Linked DNA regions of Homo sapiens: region 2 is linked to region 1. Evidence: fine-mapped expression QTL. Tissue or cell type: whole blood. Region 1 holds a variant in brackets; the other region holds the start of a gene. All regions are shown on one strand. Distances are between the middles of the regions.

The links. PIP is the estimated chance that this variant, and not a neighbour inherited with it, causes the effect.
Region 2: it holds the start of ASB8, and the variant in region 1 is fine-mapped to the expression of ASB8 in whole blood (TOPMed, PIP 0.98).

What each region holds. Positions count from the first base shown.
Region 1 is chr12:48,302,772-48,310,878 of GRCh38, reverse strand. It overlaps LOC105369753 (a long non-coding RNA gene), which reads left to right and starts at 3,450. Exons shown (of 4, transcript XR_944923.3): 1 at 3,450-3,549; 2 at 4,018-4,164; 3 at 5,337-5,463. The variant A/G (reference allele first, on the strand shown) is at 3,971.
Region 2 is chr12:48,152,725-48,160,819 of GRCh38, reverse strand. ASB8 (ankyrin repeat and SOCS box containing 8) reads left to right here and starts at 3,305. Exons shown (of 4, transcript NM_024095.5): 1 at 3,305-3,361; 2 at 7,291-7,452. The coding sequence starts at 7,324. It also overlaps the pseudogene LOC100421855. RefSeq lists enhancers at 3,125-3,344, 3,375-3,424, 3,445-3,494, 2,999-3,521.

The DNA of each region.
Region 1 (8,107 bases):
GTCCTTAGAGGAGAGAAGAGAATACTGAGGAGAATCTCTATAAATGTGATTGATACAGAAAAGTTTTCAGTGTAAGTTCTACTCCCATTGTGTTCATGAGAATTCACACTGGGGAAAAACCCTGTAACTGTCATGATTATACTGGAAAAATATTCAGGAAGCACTCACGTTTGATGTACACGAGAGCGCAAACTGGGGAGCTCAAACTGGGGACATATTGATTACAGCTTTTCCCTTACAGTGTACAAGAGAATACAAAATAGAATGCAAAGATGGTGGGAAAGCCTTTAGTATTACTTCATCCCTTAGAAAACATGAGAAACCACACTAGTGAAAAGCCCTATGAATGTAATCAGTACAAAAAATCCTTCCAATATAATCCTTCATTTACCACACATAAGAGTATATAATGGGGAGAATCCCTATGAATGTGGAAAAGCACGTATTGATCTTTCATCTGTTAGGCACATGAGACAATTTATATTAGACATCTTATGAATGTAACCAATGAGTACGGGACAATTTCTCTGTCCTTAGGTAATCAATGAGCAGTTGCAGCAAAGAGAAACACTTCGAATGTCATCAGTGTGAATGAGCCTTTCATTTTGCACAAGACAAATCACACAACAGGAATATATAAGCAATGGGTATCCTTCATCCATTGGAGAAGAATCTTTTAATATAATCAGCAAGGCTGGCTTCATGGGCATGTTACTACACAGGGCTTCAAGCTTGGGTTTTAATGCTGAAGTTGCCGTCTTACAATTCTTAATTTAGTTTTGAATTTGTGTTTTGTAAGTGAAGTCTTATGGAACCATGTAACATGTACTAGAAGCCCTAAAGCTCATGCAAAGACCTCCCGCCACCTCCTCCATTACTGGGGAAAGATTCTATATAACCATATACACAAGACCTCTAAAATTATTTTTACAGATAAATAGTATACAAAAATGTTTTTTTCACACTAATATATACAAGTATGCCAAAAAGAGACACAGCCTTCTTTACAAATCCCAAAATAAATAAACTCATGGATCCAAGGACTTAGGCTAGAAATATGAATCATGTAACAATACTGCAACCACAAGCCTGCTACAAAACTTAACAGATAAAAGAGCTAACTTTACAAAGCACCTAAATTGGTTCAGAAGTTATACTCTTTAAAACAGAGAATTCTATTAATACACTGTGCTAGATAAACATTGATCTAGCACTAATTGCCACAGGATGACAGCAAGTCCTAGAAACAAATCCCACATATTTCAACCCCCACCTCCATCACCACCAGAAGCAATTTGTCCCTCAAAAACCAGACAGCTCTGCTATAATAGCAGCTTTGATGGGCCAATACTTCAAAGGACAACTCCAACTTAAAATCAACCCAACATTTTTGCTATATGGAAATATTTGGTAAGTTTTTCCTCTAACACTGGATTCCTGTTCACTTATCAGCTTCCATATTTCTCAGATTTCAGAAATATTGAGATGTTCTTTCTCCACCACTCACTTCTAATTTCCCTTATTGGATGCTTGGGAAATACTCGCCTTCATCATACTTGTCCCACTGTCTTATATGCTGCTTTCTTCAACCATCAAAAGAATAAATAAAATTTACAGTTTATAATTATGTTTTAAACTATTTAAAAAAAAACCAATGGGGAAAAAGTCTCTAGGGCTTCTATGAAGCTTTTGGAGAGAAAAATGTATTTTTAAACCTTAGCAAAAAAGTTGAATTTCAGGACTAGTATCTGAAGGCCTTAATTAACCAGAAGAGGATAAAATATCCTTCATCTCATGTCTTAGAACTCTAAAATATGACTTTCTAGAAGACAAGGACCAGGCTACATGTGACTTACATTACAAAATGTTTGTTTTGTTGAGTTATTATGTTGACACTTATAAACTTTCAGATACGGTTGCTACTTTCTCCTAGTCCACTAGTTGCTTACATATAGCCATTCTTCATAAGCCCGTCACCTAAATGGGTCTTTTCTCCATGATCCATTTGCCTTAAAATCCCTAAGACACAAGTACCAAGTCTCTTCATCATGCACCAATAATAACAGCAATGCCTACAGTTGGATAAAACTGAAGAAGGTATCCCTAGTCCTAAAAACTTCGAAATAATATGTTAAACTAATTCTGTCCTGTCTGCAGCTCCTGAACTTCAACAGTTATTTTTCTTTTTAAATAATAGTTATATCCTACTTTTCTGACTCATTAATATAAGTGCATTGCATAGAATGTAGAAAATACAAAAAGTACTACAGACCAGGGGTCCCCAATCTCCAGGCCACCAACCGGTACCTGTCAGAAACCAGGCAGCACACCAGGTGGTGGGCAGCCAGCATTACCTCCTGAGCTCTGCCTCCTGTCAGATCAGTGGCGACATTAGATTCTCACAGGATCAGCACCCTATCGTGAACTGCTCATGTGAGGAATCTAGGCTGCCCACTCTTTATGAGACTCTAATGCCTGATGATGAGTTTCATCCCGAAACCATCTCCCCAACCCCCGTTCTCCCCAACGCCCCCGTCCATGGAAGAATTGTCTTCCACAAAAGTGGTCCCTGATGCCAAAAAGGTTGGGGACCGCTGCTACAGACTAAAGAAAACAAAGTGTGCATATTCCTAAGGCCTTATAAATGAAATCACCTACTCTGAAGAAATTAAAGCAGACCTTTTTTAGAAAGAGAAAAAAAGTGAGGGAAGGGAGAGAGCCCCCAAATAAGTTAAGAATCCAAGGAGGCTTGCTCCTCTAATAGTCACCAAAAAGTAGGGGCTTTTCACTTCCTAAAAGAAACGGAAATTTTCCCAAAGAAAATGGAATACGCAACACATCCTCTGCTTATTCCATCTTTCTTCTGTTCACTTTACCTGCACTGATGGTATAATGGGCCTTTTTCTGCCTCTTCCATTTTTAGGAAAACGTTTGTCTTCAGAAAACCTCCATTCCCGGTTCTTCTGAAAACAAAAATTAAGTCTAAGAATTATTTAAAAGATTAAGAATTTTCAAAAATTCTTAATCTTTCCCACCCTAGACGTGTGGGCTCATAACAGGAAGACTTCATAGTGACATGGGCAGAAGGCACCAGGGGAGCTGGAGGGGCCCTCAGGAGGCCAGGGGAGTCCCAAATTCACACGGTAGCTCACAGTACTGGGGAATCTCCTTTTCAGAGATGGATGAGCCACTCTTCCACTCTCCCAGAGCTGCCTGGACAGAGAAAGGTAGGCCATGGGCCTTGAGATCCAGGAAAGCACATGCTAAACGGCACAGAAGCCCAGGGATTAGGGTGCTACTTCTATCCAAGAAGGAAAACAAAACAAAACAAAACCAAAAGCCAAAAAACTGAAATTCTCCTCCCAGGAGTCTCAGCGCGGTGGGAAGCAAGTCCGTTGGCCGAGAGAGCCGCCGTTCTCCTGGCTCCGCCCCACCGCAGTCCGCTCTTATTTCCGGAGGTGGAAGAGAAATGGCTCCTTAGACCCTTGCTGGGGATAGTTACTGAAAGGGGCACTTTTTTCTTTTACAGCCCATAAAGAGCGCTTTCCCGTAAGGAGAAGCAGAATAACAAAAAAGACAAATTGTCAAAGGGCAAAATGTACTCATTTGGATAAGGCCCCAGAGCGAAGGGAACACAAGGGGGATGACTTCTGCGAGGTTGAGGATTGAAAGATACTGGCCAAATGGATGCCTGAGACTTTTGGAGTTGAGGAGGAGATGCTAACCAAAGGGCTAGGCTGGGTAGAGAACAGGAAACAAGACGTTTAGTTAGAAGGAATGGCATAGGCAGAGACAGCCTTTCTCCACCATACAATGCAGACTTTTTATTTTATTTTGAGACAGGTTCTCGCTCCGTTACCAAAGGCTGGAGTGCAGTGGTGCCATCACGACTCACTGCAGCAGCCTTCACCTCCCCGAGATCAGGCGATTCTTCCACCTCAGCTACCCCAGTAGCTGGGACTACGGGCGC[A/G]CGCCACTACAGCTGGCTATTTTTTGTTTGTTTGTTTTTTAATGTAGAGATGTGGTCTCCCTGTGTTGCCCAGGCTGCTCTGGAACTCCTGGGGGAAAGTGATCCTCCTGCCTAGGCCTTCCAAAGTGTTGTGATTACAAACGTGAGCTACCTGCCTGGCCAAGGATCTGGAATTTTTGTTGTTAACACTCCAGGTAATTGGATAGATAGATAGATGATAGATAGATAGATAGATAGATAGATAGATAGATAGATAGATAGATTTTATGTATTTATTTATTTATTTTGCTGCTGAGACCAGGATTTTGCCTCATTGCCCCAGGGTGGTCTCAAATTCCTGGCCTCAGCAGTCCTCCCACTTGGCCCCCCAGAGTGCTGGGATTACAGGTGTGAGCCACCAGGCCCGGCCTAGATTTCTGAATAATTAAGGAAGAATTATTTTTCCCTCTGTCCATCCACACGCAAGTGCTTCCTCTCTAACAATCTTTCCTGCTACAGGCTCTCTGTTTGGCATGCCTAGGGAGTGGCACTGAGTGTTCAGGCTTTCTCTTGACTTTATTCTCCTGCCCATCATCAAGTTTTTAGCTAGCCATATTATTAAAATTAATTCCCAATATTACTGCTAGTTTATGCCTTAAAATGTGCGAATGATAAACATAACAAAATGCTTGTAAGTACAAATATATCCTCAGGGGAATTTCAGTTTTGTTTTGTCATGGTGGGACCTAATTCTCAAAGTTTGACTGTGCGTCAGAAACATCTGAAAGATTTAAAAAACACATTGGGCTGGGCACGGTGGTTCATGCCTGTAATCCCAACACTTTCGGAGGCTGAGGCAGGCAGATCGCTTGAGCTCAGGAGTTTGAGACCAGCCTGGGCAACATGGTGAAACCTCATCTCTACAACAACAAAAAAATACAAAAAATTAGCTGCTTGTGATGGCACGTGGTCCCAGCCACTCGGAGGCTGAGGTGGGAAGATCACTTGAGCCGGGAGGTGGAGGTTGCAGTGAGCCGAGATCATACCACTGCACTCTGGCCTGGGTGACAGAGTGAGACCCCATCTCAAAATAAACAAAACAAAACAAAACAAAACAAAACAAAACAAAAACAGATTGCTGGGCCCTACCTGAAAAGTTTCTGATTTAGTAGGTTCAGGGTGAGGCTCAATAATTTGCATTTTTAACAAATTTCCAGATGATGCTGCTGTTCTGATGACCACACTTTGAGAACTACTGGTCTAGCATATCTAATTATAATAGGTAGCATTTACTGAAGTTTCTGCAGTATGTTAAAGGAGTGGTTGACTTAACATGCAATTCTTATCAATACCATAACAGATAGGGGTTAATATTTCTATCTTATAGGAGGAAACCTGGCTGAGGATAATGACTGAGATTACTTATTGTAAGAGAAGGCTGCTGAAGTTTAGAAAAACACACCTATCCACCATCAGGCGGGCCACTGGCTTCACATTCTTCTTTTATCTAAAAAGTAAGCAGGCATAGAATGTTATGTGCTATGGTTTAAAAATACCTTTGCTGAACTGAGTGTTCTCTTGGGTAGTGGTTTTGGGCAAATAATTTCACCTCTGCAAGTCTTAGTGTCCTCAAAATGGGGGACAGATTGGACTACTGGAGTTAGGCCATCAAGACCCCTAACCTGTTACTATTTTCCCCCGTTGGGTCCCATGTTTTGAACAATTTTTATTTTTATTTTATTTATTTATTTATTTATTTATTATGTATGTATTTATGTATTTTTTCGGATGGAGTCTCGCTGTGTTGCCCAGGCTGGAGTGCAGTGGCGTGATCTCGGCTCACTGCAAGCTCTGCCTCCCGGGTTCATGCCATTCTCCTGCCTCAGCCTCCCCAGTAGCTGGGACTACAGGCGCCCGCCACCACGCACGGCTAGTTTTTTGTATTTTTTAGTAGAGATGGGGTTTCACTGTGTTAGCCAGGATGGTCTGGATCTCCTGACCTTGTGATCCACCCGCCTCAGCCTCCCAAAGTGGAACAATTTTTATTATATTAGCCAAAGACATTTTCGTTAGCATAAGATAACCATGGTTGCCACCCTGAGTTGGTATTTCAGCCAAAAACAAAGAAACAAGATTTTATTTAGCATGCACAAACTTAGGTAGCTATGTGATTTCTCTTAGAACACTGAAATATTGAGAGTTGCTTATGAATGCCTAGAGGTTTGTAGACCATGGGCTCAACACAATAGAAATGGTTTGTTTTCAAGGTTCTTTCTTGTAATACTAAATGAATCTGTAAGGCTCAGTGCTGATGTAATCATTATTGCCTTGACCAGTGCTTGAGTATGTGGGATAACACCTTCGATGCCTCTGTTTCTATACTTTTGCCAAGAGATGAAATAGGAATGAGAAGGTGAAATGGAGTTCAGGAAAATGAGGTTGTGTTTATACCAACACACTGCTGTCCCTTTCATTGTTAATGTCTGTTAATTGTGTGGGGCTCTTTCTATGATATTATGTTCTCTCTGTTTTTATATTTTCAAATATTTCACTGTGGATAGATTTAACTTTCTCTCTTTTAAGATAGATAATGCTCTGTTCGCCATTGGAGATGGCCTGTTGTTATTGCCAGCGGTAGTAGCATAAGTATTGGTATTCCCATTTCATTCCTCGGCAAAAGTATAAAAAGAGAAGCATTGAAGTTGTTATCCCACTGACTCAATACAAAATCCATACATTTTTCCATGTAAAATAATTCTTGCACTATCCTCAAAATGTAAGAGGAGTTGAGAAAACAGACATATTTTTAAGGAAGAAATTGACTGTACTGCATATCACATATTTGAGATAACCATTTGCCCAAATAAGCATAATGGCCACATTAAACAGGAAAACTGTGTTAGGCTATTATAAAACAATCAAGGGCAGGGACCACCCATTTGTTCTTTTTTGCCCTCAAGACTTTAAAAGGCTAGTAGACTACGAATGATAATATTACCTCATATTATTGAGCCATTGTGTATAATGTTATTCATAGATTGAGGCCTCCATCCCAGAGAGATCTGTGCTACCATATCACTAACTCCAACACAGTGACTGGGTCCTAATCAAGAACCATTTATGAAATTCCTTATTGGCTCTTTTTTGGATCAGACCATAGCAAGTATCCTTGATAGTTCACACCATTCAAAAGTGCTGGATGAGAAGTCTAAATACAATGCATCTCACTGTTGGAAATTTTCTATTCTAACTATTAATGTAGCAGACTACCTTCTTTTGATTATCAAGCAGACATAAAATGCCATCAACAAAACAGAATGCTTTTATGTGTTATCACTATCAATTGATGTGCAAAGAAATTATTGAGATAAGGGTGTTACATCTTCTTGGGAACCCACTATGTAAAGGATATACCCTGTGACAGTGCTATGGACAGATTAATACTTTCACAGACTAAATGCAAATACTTTTACAAATGAAATGAAATCTTAATTATCTGCAGAGCAACATAGGCAAAATCTATATAGGTTGTAGAATAAATGGCGAGGTAACCAAATTGGTATTGTTGCTACCATTTTTAATATCCTTAATTGATTCACCTTGAGTAACCTTTCCCTTGTTCCCTCTTGTATTCCATTGGCCCCTGAAACCACCTTCTCCTTAACCCCTCCTCGATGAAACACCAGCTAATTTTCTAGAAACCCTTCCATTCTAAATAAAAGAATACGTTTTATCATTCAGGGATAGAATTAGTCACTTCTCAAGACTCCCTCTTTATTTGGATTCCCAAACTTAATTCAGCTACTGATTGGTGTTTTAATTGATTGAACAAAAGAATTAAGAGCATACTCACCAAAATCTAATTATACCATTTATTATTGGACTATGTTATAATAAATTTCTTTTTTTATTTACTTAAGTATTGAAAAAGTTATATTAGGCAAAAAAAGATCTAATAATTCTACTAAATTATTTATCTACTCCACTCTACATTACTAGTGGAGGGTGTCCAGGTTCTTGGCATTTTGAACAAAGAATTGCACAAAATGCACAAATAAAGCAACAAAAGAAAAGCACAGATTTATTGAAAAGAAAGTACATGCCACAGAGTGGGAGCAGTCTTGAGCAAACAGCTCATGAGCACTAGTTACAGAATTT
Region 2 (8,095 bases), 150 kb after region 1:
TTACTGCCTGGAGTGAAGTATTCAAAATAGAAAAGACAGAGAAGCTAGAGAAGGAACAGCAGTGAAGCATCAACAAGCCTTTACTGGGGGACCATTTTCCCTCACAACACATTTGGAGAGCCTGAAACTGACAAAGACTACCTGGGTCAGTGGCTGTTGATTTATTCTGGTTTCAGTCATTACTGATATCTGTCCAGAAGAACTAGAAAAAAATAATTCAAGTTGTGGGTGAGATAGTGTTCCAACTCTGCCAAATTTAACTTTTCATCACCATTGACCCAGAGAGGGACATAAAAAAGGCCATTGCAAATTATGTGAAAGAATTTTCTCCCAAACTGGTTGGCCTGATTGGCACGAAAGAAGAGATCAATCACGTGGCCAGAGCATACAGAGTATATTACAGCTCTAGCCCCAAGGATGAAGATGAAGACCATGTTAGTGAATCATACAATAACAATGTCTTTGATTGGGCCAGATGGTGAGTTTCCAGATTATTTTGGCCAGACCAGGAAGAATGCAGAAATTGTTAGCCAGTTCAATTGCTGCACACATGAGGGCACACAGGAAAAAAGAGCTAGCCAAAGCAGTGATGCTGGGTGCAATATTCTCTTGTTAAAGAGGAAGGAAGCAGCCAGGCGCGGTGGCTCACGCCTGTAATCCCAACACTTTTGGAGACCGAAGTGGGTGGAACACCTGAGGTCAGGAGTTCGACACCAGCCTGGCCATCATGGTGATACCCTGTCTCTACTAAAAATACAAAAATTAGCCAGGTGTGATGGTGCCCGCCTGTAACCCCAGCTACTCAGGAGGCCAAGGCAGGAGAATTGCTTGAACCCGGGAGGTGGGTGGAGGTTGCAGTGAGCTGAGATCGTGCCACTGCACTCCAGCCTGGGTGACAGAGTGAGACTTCATCTCAAAAAAAAAAAAAAAAGGAAGCTTTGTCTTCCATAGAAATATATATATTGTGTATATATATGTAATATATATAGTATATCTGTAATATATAGTACATATGTAATATATATATTGTGTGTATATATATATGTTATATATATGCAACCTACAGAATGACCTTTGCACCATTGTACCATGAGAATGTTTCTATTTTGGATTGGCATGTTACTCCTGGGTTCAGTCAAAATAGACTCTTGAAACTGTAAGATTACAACTCAAAGTCTCCCAGGTAGCTGTGGTGAGACCAGAGGACCAAGTCTAAATGAAGTCAGTGAAGAGTGGAGGACGCTCATGGAAGGACACAGCAAGGGAGGCACAGCCAGTGCATCTCCCATTATGAATGGGCCCTCCCAGCAGCTTTATTGGCTCTCCAGTGTTTTGGACCCTTGCTCATACAGGCTGTGGAACTGAATTTCACAGAAAAGAATAATTTTTATAGCACTTTGGCTTCTCTCTTCTTGAGTTATTTGCTCTTCTGTGTTCTTGGTGGCTGATGATAGTCAGATTAGGCTCTCTGCCATTCAAAGTTTATCTTTGTACTTGAAAGCATAAGTTTTGTCTTCTTTGTTAATGAATATCACTGTCAGGCTTGCTCCACTGCCCTATCAGCAGGTACTGATTTGACTAATAAAGATGAGATCTATTGTTTGGGGGGAAAAAAAGTTAGTTTGATTTCTCTAGGGGTCTCTTATGTGATTTTTAGCTAAGTGATGGGCTAGGTTTTCAATGACATGCCAAATGGAAATAAGAAGATATTGATCATGAGTGTGACATAGAGTAGTTTTCTGCATATACTGAGTTGCAGGCCAAGTAAAATAAAAGTGTACTCAGTTTTTCAATAAATAAGTAAAATAACCTGTATTGAGAGCCTATTTTATCACTCCCTGGGAGACTCCGCTCATTCTTACATTTGTAAGATGCTGATGGTTTCCCAGAATTTATATACTTCAGCATTTCCCAACCAAGAAATTTGAGAGATGTGGTCCAGTGTGGTGACTCATGCCTGTAATCCCAGCACTTTGGGAGGCCGAGGAGGGTGGATCACCTGAGGTCAGGAGTTTGAGACCAGCCTGGCCAACATGGTGAAACCCCATCTCTAATAAAAATACAAAAAAAAAATTAGCCAGGTGTGGTGGCAGGTGACTGTAGTCTCAGTTACTCAGGAGGCTGAGGCAGGAGAATCACTTGAACCCGGAAGGCTGAGGTTGCAGCCAGCCGAGATCACGCCATTGCACTCCAGCCTGGGTGAGAAGAGCGAAACTACATCTCAAAAATAAATAATGATGATGATAATAATAATAATAATAATAATAATAATAAAAACATTGCCAACATTTGCAACTTGGAAAAATTCACTTTTTAAAAAAAATCTGTATTTCAGCTTCTTTTGAAAAATGGACGATCTCACCATGGTGCAGTGGCAGGAAGTGGAGGGCATATTCCTACCTGGCAAAATTCCTTTGAGTCTGGAGCTCAAAGGAGGCCCACTCCTCAGACCAGGTCATGAACTTTCAGTTTACCATCCTCTTACTGATGTACATGATCTGTCTGGGCCTGCTTTAAATCTCTAATTGGTTAGATTTGGTTGCTTAGAACAAGCTCTGGGGAGTAGGTGTGGGGCACTCTGGTTAAACAGGCTACCGGGCAGACCACAACTCTTGCAGTCTGCCTAAATGGGCTGCTGCTTCACTCCTTCCATGCACCACCACCATGTGCTGCTGACTTCAAAATGTTTATGCTTTGCACAGAAAGTCTGTCACTCAGAGGTGTCATCATGTTTTTGTGCGGGAAGTTTCATTAACCCTAATAAGAGTTATAAAGGTCATTTATTCCTCTACATTTAGAATACTACACCTCTTGGGTGGTTGAGTTTGTCTTTGATATGGTTTACTTGAAGGAGGGTGGACATGTACAGGAGGGTTCTAAGGAGCATAGATTCGTTCCACCATTATGAATAATGCTGTAAGTATTTTTGTCAAAGACACTTCCTACTAAGAGTTTAGTCTCCTAAGCAACTGAACCATTGTGGATGGACCCCTGCTGGCCTGGTCCACGCAGGTGCAACCATATAGAATCGGCCCAACACTCAGGGTTCCTGAGCTTTTTTATCCCCGCTGCAGGACCAAGACCCGAACCCTGCGGCTGTGGCCGAGAACGCTGCACTGAGCCTGCGCGCAAAGCCTCTGAGTAAAAGGAGAAAGTAACCCCCTAACTAGGCCTCTGGAGGGCGAAAGCTGCTGCACAAGTCTGCGCAGGCGCGCCCCGCTGACGAACACTCATCAGTGCGCAGGCGCCCATCTTAGTTGGTCTTCTAGTCCGGTAAACAGAGGGCCTGCCCCCGACAGCTTCTGCTTCCGGGTCACGCCTTGACAGCGGCTTTCAACCCCCACCTCAGCCCAGCAATTCGGTGAGTGCGGTCCTTGGAGTGGGTCTACAGCCAGGTTTCCTAACCCAGGGTACCACGCCCAATAACGCTTCCTCTACTCCCTGGTCGAAGTGCTCTAGTTCTCGAGGCTGAGACTTATTTCCGGGCCTTAGAAGGCAGATCGAAGAGGGGGTTGGTCCGCGTCTGAGGCCCCCCAGCGCAAATTGCGTGATTCTCTTTCAGTACCGGACCTACCGGGATTGCTGCGATCTGTTTAGAGCCCGTGCAGAAAGTGACACCGCACGTCCTTGCGTTTCGTGCCCTTGCCCCCCGCCCCCTAGCCTCAGCGAGACAGCTGCCGCGGGCCCTCCCGCAGCAGGTGCGGTGGGGATTACGGGCGCTGCAGGCTCGGCCAAGGTTCTCCCGGGGCGGGAGGGGGCGGGGCCGAGGCCTCCCTCGCATCAGAGCTGTTGTGTCTTCTCTTTTCCAGTTTGCTTTTTTTTTTTTTTTTTTTCAGCTTCTCAGTAAGTGCCCTTTGGTGTTTTCTCTGGATCCCGTAGCAAAAGAAAACGAGGGAGACAGGGCTTTCAGCTCTAGCAGAGGAAAGGGCCTTCCAAGGGGATCAAACCTTACACGGGCTGCTGTCTAGTGAGATCGAATTTAGCTTTCCTTGACCATTCCTGAAGTGAATGCTGTCTGCCCTGAAGTTTCATTCCTTTACCGGGAGCTTCCAGGCAGCAGCAGACCACTGACCATACTCTCAGGAGTTCTTAGCCCAGAGCCCAAGAGCGCCCGGGAAATTAGTTCAGGATTTAGTTTCATCCGATTATCATGGCCCAGAAATGGTTAACAAAACGACTTTATTTATTTATTTTAATTTTTGAATTTTTTTGTAGAGACGATTGGGTTTTGGGGTCGTCTCGCCATGTTGCTCAGGCTGGTCTTGAACTTCCAGGTTCAAGAGTTCCTCCTGCCTTGGCCTCCCAAAGTGCTGGGATTACAGGCAACAGAACCACTTTGGTCCAAGCCTCCTGCTTTAGATGCTCTGTCTTCTGCTGCCATTCTTGGAATTACCAACTCAAATGCACTTGTCTTTTTTTTTCCTTGAAACAAAAAAATTATAAGATACAGATACTTGTCTCAGAGCAGTTTAGTGGCTACTGGAGAGATTAAAACACATGCCAAATCTAAACTATCTAGAAAATGTCATAGAGACATATAAACAAGTGTGTCAGCTTATCCGTGCATGATAACGGGAGAAAAATACCTAATTTGAATTATCGATACATATGAATATTTTTACTTGCATTCTTTTAATGGAATTTACATCTACTATAAATGGCTACTGATTCACAAAATAGAAACTATCAGAATTTATAGTATATAATATATAAAGGGATACACAATCACAAAAAGCAAAAATAGGCCGGGCATGGTGGCTCATGTCTGTAATCCCAGCACTCTGGGAGGCCAAAGCAGGTGGATGACCTGAGGTCAGGAGTTTGAGACCAGTTTGGCCAACATGGTGAAACCCTGTCTCTACTAAACATACAAAAATTAGCTGGGCGTGATGGTGCACACCTGTAAATCCCAGCTACTCAGGAGGCTGAGGAACGTGAATTGCTTGAGCCTGGGAGGCTGAGGTTGCAGTGAGCTGAGATCGCACCACTGCACTCCAGCCTAGATGACAGAGTGAGACTCCGCCTCAAAAAAAAAAAAATAAAGCAAAAGACTATATATACATATATATATATATATTTTTTTTTTTTTTGAGATGGAGTCTCACTCTGTCATCTAGGCTGGAGTGCAGTGGCGCGATCTCAGCTCACTGCAACCGCCACCTCCCAGGTTCAAGCGATTCTCCTGCCTCAGCCTCCCAAGTGGCTGGGACTACCAGGGGTGGTGCATGCCACCATGCCTGGCTAATTTTTTTGTATTTTCAGTAGAGACGGGGTTTCACCATGTTGGCCAGGCTAGTCTCGAACTGCTGACCTCAAGTGATCCGCCCATCTCGGCCTCCCAAAGTGCTGGGATTACAGGCGTGAGCCATCGCGCCCCGCCAAAACATTATATATTATTAAATGACCAAAACAATTTCATATGGGTAATGTGCTTATTTATTTCAAGTCTTGAATTTCTTAGGATCTAAAGTAATAAACTTTACATTGGTTCAACAGATGTTAAGAACCTACCATGTGTTCAGGTACTATTGAAAAAATCAGTATCGTTATTCCCAAAGAGCTTATAATAAGAACACAGATTTCTAAGCAGTTGCACCTAGAGAGCTGATACTGTGTATTATATTTTCCCTATTGTTTTTGATATGTACTGTTTCATAGAAGTGTTCTACCTTATTGGCTGTAATTTTAAATGGTCCCTAACTCTTGTCTCTTATACAGCCAAGCCTTTTAAGTTGAATTGAAGTATATTGCATTATTTTCTTCTTCCATCCTAGAACTCTGTCCTATTGTGGTTTCAACATATATTTCACCAAATCTATTTCTCAGTTGCCATGAATAGCCAATTATTAAAAATTTTCACTCATTTTATTTATTTTTTTGAGATGGAGTCTCACTCTGTTGCCAAGATTGGAGTACAGTAGTGCAGCCTCAGCTCACTGCAACCTCTGCCTCCTGGGTTCAAGCTATTTTCCTGCCTCAGCCTCCCGAGTAGCTGGAATTACAGGCGTGCGCCACCATGCCCAGCTAATTTTTTTTGTATTTTTAGTACAGATGGGCTTTCACCATGTTGGTAAGGCTGGTCTCGAACTCCTGACCTCAGGTGATCCACCCACCTCAGCCTTCCAAAGTGCTGGGATTACAGGTGTGAGCCACCACGCCCCACCTTTAACTCATTTTAAAATCTGCAAATTTTCCTAAAACTGAAAGTACATTTTATTATTCTGAATTTTAATTTTTTCCTAGTTTTATATAAATGACTCCAGGGTAGTTATACTTTTGCTTTCCTTACCTATTTTAGAATACTACCTCAAATATTTCCTTTTTTTTTTTTTTTTTTTTGAGATAGAGTCTCACTCTGTTGCCCAGGCTGGAGTGCGGTGGCCCGATCTCGGCTCACTGCAAGCTCTGCCTCCCAGGTTCACGCCATTCTCCTGCCCCAGCCTCCCAAGTAGTTGGGACTACAGGCGCCCACCACCACGTCCAGCTAATTTTTTTGTATTTTTTGTAGAGACGGGGTTTCACTGTGTTAGCCAAGATGGTCTGGATCTCCTGACCTTGTGATCCACCCATCTCGGCCTCCCAAAGTGCTGGGATTACAGGCATGAGCCACCACGCCCTGCCAAATATTTCCTTTTTTTCCTCTTCTGAACACATTTGAAAATGTTTCAGATAACTTTTCATTATTAAGATATATTTGCTCCATAGCCTTCTTCCTCTCTTTTCACACATAACAATCACTTCTATACTGTTTAGTCAGTCGACCAACCAATATTTGTTAAATACCTACCTTTTGTGAGATTCTGTGGCTGGCCTTACATGGGTGAAAAAGTAGAAGACAAAGTCCTTGCCTTCCAGTTGATTACAGTTTCGATGGAGAAACAATATGTACATAACTATATTGCAAGGCCCAGTGTTATAAATAACTTAATGGTGGTGCTGATCATAAAAACCACAAAAATTCAAAGAAGGAAAATAATGTTTTTTGACCTCTTCAGCCTTTTAAAAATCCTATTCCTTGCCTAGTCGTTTGTAAACCACACAGAGCTCCACGGGGGTCTTAGTACCTCTTGGGGAAATCTCGTGCTAGACTAGGTTAGAGTAGAACATTTGTGTCCAGGTTTATCCAACTCCCTAGGCAACTATTATAATCCAATTCCTTATGATTATGGAAATAGTATTAATCACTCCTTGAAATCTGCTTTTAGCATTGGGAAGGCCTCAGAGAAGACCTAACCCTAAAGACAGGTGTGCTCAGTGATATTGTATATGCCGAAAACTTCTTTGTTTCAGGCAGTTTGGAGCATGTGAACACCTTGAGCCTTGATGAGTTCCAGTATGTGGTATATTATGCAGAGCATTCAGAGCAAATACTCTCTCTCCGAGCGCTTAATCCGAACAATTGCTGCCATCCGTTCCTTCCCACATGATAATGTAGAGGACCTCATCAGAGGGGTGAGTGTGCTGGTATTGACAGGAGAGTCCTTGCGATATGAAGTGGGCAAAATCCTCATGGATCACAGATTTGCAGCTTTGACTCAACCCAAGATCACAGGGAGTTTTTACATTTTGCTAACTGCATTAACTTGATCATTAAAATGTATTTCCCCTATGTTTGCTTCGCTTCCCTTCTCCCTTTCACTTTGTGTATCTGATATTTTTCTTCATGGAATATGTTCTCAATAACCCTAGTCTCATGTTCTTTGTAAAATATCTGAGTACGATGCATATGTAATCCATTGAGCTCAAAGTCTTCTATACATGTTTTATTAAGGGAGGAGGTGAGCAAAGCAGAGGTGGTTTTTATTTTTATTTGTTGAGACAGGGCTTCACTTTTGTCACCCAGGCTGGAGTGCAGTGGCACAAACATGGCTTACTGCAGCCTTGACCTCCTGGGCTCAAGCGATCCTCCCACCTCAGCCCCCTCAAGTAGCTGGGACTACAGGCACATGCCACCCATGTCCAGCTAATTTTTTTTTTTTTAATTTTTTGTAGAGATGGTGTTTCACCATGTTTCCCAGGCTGGTCTTGAATTCTCATGCTCAAGCAACCCACCTGCCTTGGGTTCCCAAAGTCGTGGGATTAGAGGTGTAAGCCA